Regions from separate parts of the Homo sapiens genome. Here region 2 is linked to region 1. The links come from fine-mapping of genetic effects on gene expression. A gene starts in region 1. The other region holds a variant in brackets. All regions are shown on one strand. Distances are between the middles of the regions.

Region 1 (2,897 bases):
CTCTGGCTTTGCTTATAGGCTTGTCTGATTCTACAAGCTTGTGTTTTCCCAGGCTCAGCTCAGGCTTGGCTGTGGATCACATAAGGGAAGAAAGTCAAGAAGCTGCTCAGGGGCGGAGCCTGTGGGCAAGTGCACACACAGGGAAGACCCCTGCCCTATCCTGAGTAGGGAACCTTGGAAAGACCCCATGTGTGCTTGGGCATCATTGTGGGGAAGACTGGGCTGTGGAAAAACACTAGCGTTTGTCTGGGAATTTTGGGGAAGGAAAGGGATGGAAAAGCGAAAGGGTGGGAAGGGGCTGGTTTCCTGCTGCTTCTGCTATATAAGAACAGCATCTAGCAGGAAGGTTGTCCCGTGGGCCCATACTAGCCACCTTACAAAGCAGCGTCTGCAGTGGCTGACGCCTGTAATCCCAGCACTTTGGGAGGCTGAGGCCGGTGGATCTACCTGAGGTCAGGAGTTCAAGACCAGCCTGGCCAACATGGTGAAACACCATCTCTACTAATAATACCAAAAAATTAGCAGGGCATGGTGGCGGGCGCCTGTAATCCCAGCTACTCAGGAGGCTGAGGCAGGAGAATCGCTTGAAACTGGGAGGCGGAGGTTGTAGTGAGCCGAGATCGCGCCATTACACTCCAGCCTGGGCAACAGAGCGAAACTCCGTCTCAAAAAGAAGAAAAAAAAGGAAAGAAAAAAGAAAGCGGCGTGCGGGGCAGGGGGTTGGAGCTCTTTCTGGGCTCAGTGTCCCCAGGTGACGGAACACATGCCACGTGCTTGGTGCGCTGCGAGCTCAGCTCCTGGAGCTTCTGTTGCTGCTGTGGCCGCAAGGCCTGGACCCTCGCGGGGAGATTCAGACCCACACTTAGCTCCAGAGCTTGGGGGTTGTCGTTAAGCCCTTCCTTTCCATCAGAGGCTGATGAATCCCCAAACTCCTGGGCTGAGTTCGACTCTCCGACAACTCCTCAGAGGCGGATGTTTGGGGCCACTGGAATAAGCCCAGCACCAGCTGGGGTGTGGACAGCCTCGGGGGCCAGGCCAACTCTCCCGGACGGGTGCGGACGGCAGGGGCGGGGCCGGGCTGTAGGCGGTGGGAGGGGTGGGGCCGGGCGAGAAGGGGCTGGGCGGGCTGCCGTCGGGCGGGGCTGCGCGGGGAAGGGCGGGGCTGCGCGGGGGGCGGGGCTGCGTGGGGGAGGGCGGGGCCGGGCTGTTGTGGGTGGGCGGGGCGCACCGGGGAAAGTTCCGGGAAGGGCGGCAGCCGGCGGGGCCCGGGCGCGGAAGTTGCCGGCGGCCGCGCGGCCTCCCGGGCGGGCCTACAGCCATGTCCCGGGACCCGGGGTCGGGCGGCTGGGAGGAGGCCCCGCGCGCAGCTGCCGCGCTCTGCACCCTGTACCACGAGGCCGGACAGCGGCTGCGCCGCCTGCAGGACCAGCTCGCTGCCCGCGACGCCCTCATCGCTCGCCTCCGCGCCCGCCTGGCCGCGCTGGAGGGGGACGCCGCGCCGTCCCTAGTGGACGCGCTGCTGGAGCAGGTTGCGCGCTTCCGGGAGCAGCTGCGAAGGCAGGAGGGCGGCGCCGCCGAGGCCCAGATGCGCCAGGTACGAGGGCGGGTACCAGAGGAGCTGCGGGAGCGAGAGTGCGTGTGGCGGCCGCCGGGTCCTGGGTGGGTGAGCGAGCGGGCCCCGGGTCCTGAGGGGTTGAGGGGGTACTGGGTCCTGGGGTTGAGTTGGCCTCGGGTCCTGAGGGGTTGGGGGAGCACCAGGTCCTGGGAGTTGAGGGGGTGCCGGGTCCTGGGGGTGAGGGGGCCCCGGCTCCTGAGGGGTTGGGGGAGCATCAGGTCCTGGGGGTTGAGGGGGTGCCGGGTCCTGGGGTTGAGGGACACTAGGTCCTGGGGGTAAGGGGCCGTCGGGTCCTGGGGGTGATAGGGCAACAGCTTCTGGGGGGTGAGGGGACCCTGGGTCCTAGGGGAGAGAGGGGGACCAGGTCCTGAGTGGGATAAGGGGACACCACGGGCTGAGGTGTGCTGGGTCCTGGGGGGTTTGAGGCGTCACCAGGTGCTGGTGGAGGTGAGGGGGCTCTGGGTCCTGCGGGGTGAGGGTGCAAGGTTCTGAAGGGGATAAGCGAATGCTGGATCCTGGGGGGTTGGGAGGGCACTGGGTCCTGGGGGATGGTGAGGAGGCACTGGGTTCTGAGGAGGGGGGTTGGTGCAGTTCTTGGGTTCTGTGTGTGTGTGGTGTATGTTCAGGTGGGCTCTTAGGGGTATTTTGAGGTTCGTGTGTGGGAACACATTCCGAGGGGGGTGTGTGTATGCTGTGTGTATTCTGTGTGTATTGTGTAGTGTGTATGTTCCGGTTGGTTCTTAGGGGTGTTTTGAGGTGTGTGTGCGGGAGACACATTCTGAGGGGTGTGTATGGTGTGTGTGTGTACGCACACATGTGTGTCTTGGGTCCAAGGTCGTGTACTCATATTGTGTTCTAGAGTCCCTTCCAGCCCTCACCCATGCATGTGTCTTTCACTAGTGGCGCTTCAACTCTATGCTGGGAGCAATGGCAAATGCAGCCCGTGTCTGATAAAGGACACAAATCCTAGGCTGGGTGCAGTGGCTCACGCCTGTAATCCCAGTACTTTCGGAGGCAAGGCGGGCAGATTGCCTGAGCCCAGGAGTTCGAGACAAGGCTGAGCAACATGGTGAAACCCTGTCTACAAAAAGTGCAAAAAATTAGCCGGGCATGGTGGCACGTGCCCGTGCTCCCAGCCACTAGGGAGACTTAGGTGGGAGGATCACTTGAGCCTGGGAGGCAGAGGTTGCAGTGAGCCAAGATCGCACCACTGCACTCCAACCTGGGTGACAAAGTGAGACCTTGTCTGAAAAAATTAAATTAAAAATGGACACAAGGGTCC
Region 2 (2,897 bases), 25 kb after region 1:
CAGACTTGATGGTGTGAGTACTGGGTGGGCTTGTTTTTAACTTTCTCGTTCTGCAAGGGATCTTACACAAGCTGGCTACAAGTCAGGGGGATCAAACACAAACAGCGCAACGTGTACACTCGGAGACAGTAGATTGTGGAGAACAAAGGAGGCCTGCCCCGCCCAGCCCGCCTAGGGTGAGACGCAGGGGCACAGGAGAGCTGAGTGACGGCCGATACCCCGGTGAGGACACATGACAGGACAGGGCGCAATGCAGAGGCAACGGAGCCACGTGGATGATGCAAACTCCTATCTGGCCACGGCCCAGGCCTCCGAGGCCGCGGTGGTGGGAGGACTTGGCGGGAACTACTGTTCCAATCCGACAGCACAGAGCTACAATCGAAGGAGTCTCACGCACAGACTACACGCACACGAGCTAACGGCGTGGGCCGAGCATCAACTTCTCGGTCTGGGGTTTCAGGCAGCACCAGCTCCGCACAGCCCTTGGCAAGCACCACGGCTCTGGGGCGCCAGCGAGGGGCGTGGCTCTTGGGGTGGTGCAGCCTGGCCTGCCTCTCGCGTGTCCCTCTCCAGGGAGTCCTCATTCAGTGGGCAGCAAAGGTGGCTTTTTTCAAGCTAAAATTGGACCAGTTGATAGACAGTCTTTGTCGGGTCTGTCTAGCAGAATCCAAGCAGAACCTGCAAAGACAAAAAGCCAAACAGTCACTGAAGGAAACAGCCCACAACCAAGCTGGTGCTTGGCAAAGCCCATCACACTCCTGTTCTTGCCAGAAACTCACTGCGGGGTCAGGGGTTTAGATTCTCGGTGAGGGGCACAGTGTCAAGGGTCCCCTCCAGGCCCTGCTACAGGCTGCACTTGAGAAGGGGAAAGGACTCGGGAGGAGGAATGGGTGGGCGGAAGGAGTCCTGAGAAAGAAAAGAAACGTTTAATCTGAGAGCTGTGAGCGCCCTTAAATTATCAGGCCCAGGCAGGGTGTGGTGGCTCATACCTGTAATCCCAGCACTTTGGGAGGCTGAGGAGGGCAAATCACTTCAACTTAGGAGTTCGAGACCAGCCTGGGCAACATGGTGAAATCCTTTTTTTTTTGAGACAGGGTCTCACTCTCTTGCCCAGGCTGGAGTTCAGTGGCAGTTTCGGCTCACTGCAACCTCCACCTCCAAGGTTCAAGCAATTCTCTGCCTCAGCCTCCCAAGTAGCTAGGACTACAGGCATGTACCACCACACCGGTTTTTTTTTTTTTTTTTTTTTTTTTTTTGAGAAGGAGTTTCGCTCTTGTCATCCAGGCTAGAGTGCAATGGCACAATCTCAGCTCACTGAAGCCTCCGCCTCCCACGTTGAAGTGATTCTCCTGCCTCAGCCTCCCAAGTAGCTGGGATTACAGGTGCCCACCACCACGTCCAGCTGATTTTTGTATTTTTAGTAGAAAGAGGGTTTCACCATGTTGACCAGGCTGATCTGTACTCCTGACCTAAAGTGATCCGCCTGCCT[C/T]GGCCTCCCAAAGTGCTGGGATTACAGGCGTGAGCCACTGTGCCTGGCCACACCTAGCTAATTTTTAATTTTTTTCAAATGGAGTCTCTGTCACCCAGGCTGGAGTGCAGTGGCACGATCTTGGCTCACTGCAACCTCTGCCTCCCAGGTTCAAGCGATTCTCCTGCCTCAGCTTCCCAAATAGTTAGGACTACAGGTGCATACCACAACACCCAGCTAATTTTTGTATTTTTTGTAGCTTCTTCCCTGGCCAAGAAGCTTTTTTTTTTTTCTTGACACGGAGTCTTGCTCTGTCGCCCAGGCTGGAGTGCAGTGGCGTGATCTCGGTTCACTGCAACCTTCGCCTCCCAGGTTCATGCCATTCTCCTGCCTCAGCCTCCCAAGTAGCTGGGACTACAGGCACCTATCACCACGCCCAGCTAATTTCTTCTATTTTTAGTAGAGATGGGGTTTCACCATGTTAGCCAGGATGCTCTCAATATCCTGACCTTGTGATCTGCCCTCCTCGGCCTCGCAAAATGCTGGGATTACAGTCGTGAGCCACCGCGCCCGGCCTCCAAGAAGCTTTTATAGAAAGCAGAGGCCTCGAAAAAATTGTATACACATATATCCTAAATATCAGCTTCTAATTAAGTCAACTTTCAACTCTAAAGCTGTTTAAAAGGATTCCTGTGTCAGGTCTTAGCCAGGCAAATAGTCAACATTCTTGTTTCTTGGTTTTTCCTTCCTGAAACTGACACCAAAGAGGAGATCTGAAGCTGGCCATGGTGGCTCATGCCTGTTTTCCTACTACTTTGGGAGGCTGAGGTTGGAGAATCACTTGAACCCAGGCGTTTGAGACCAGCCCGTGCAACACAGTGAGACTCCATCTTTACAAAAAGTAAAAAGTTAGCCAGGAGTGGCAGTACACATATGTGCCTATAGTCCCAGCTGCTCGGGGCTGAGGTGGGAGGATCCTTGAGCCTGGGAGGTCAAGGCTGCAGTGAGCTGTGATGGTGCCCCCGCACTCCAGCCTGGGTGACAAAGGTGAGACCCGTCTCAAAAATAATAAAGCCTTGCTGTGGTGGCTCATGCCTATAATCCCAGCACTTTGGGAGGCTGAGGTGCGTGGATCACTTGAGCTTACAAGTTCAAGGCCAGCCTGGGCAACATGGTAAAACCTCATCTCTACAAAAAAACACAAAAATTAGCCAGGTGTGGTGGCGCACACCTGTGGTCCTAGCTACTCGGGAGGCTGTGGTGGGAGCATGGCTTCAGCCTGGTGGGCAGAGGCTGAGCGAGCCTGTTGCCGGTGGCAGGTACCTGAGTTGCCGGTGGCGAATCCGTATGTGTCTGCAGCAGCCTCAATTATTGCCTCCTCAGACGAAAGAATCTGACCAAAGGCCATAAGGCAGAAGAAGAGACTGAG

Evidence for each region.
Region 2: its variant is fine-mapped to the expression of TNIP2 in whole blood (TOPMed, PIP above 0.99).

Annotation. Positions count from the first base shown.
Region 1 is chr4:2,754,711-2,757,607 of GRCh38, reverse strand. It overlaps TNIP2 (TNFAIP3 interacting protein 2), which reads left to right and starts at 1,272. Exons shown (of 6, transcript NM_024309.4): 1 at 1,272-1,594. The coding sequence starts at 1,319. RefSeq lists silencers at 810-949, 1,130-1,649, 1,670-1,729.
Region 2 is chr4:2,729,556-2,732,452 of GRCh38, reverse strand. It overlaps FAM193A (family with sequence similarity 193 member A), which reads right to left. Exons shown (of 21, transcript NM_001366318.2): 21 at 1-678. The coding sequence ends at 585. Among named protein-coding and RNA genes, the nearest start is that of TNIP2, 25 kb to the left of the region's middle. The variant C/T (reference allele first, on the strand shown) is at 1,490.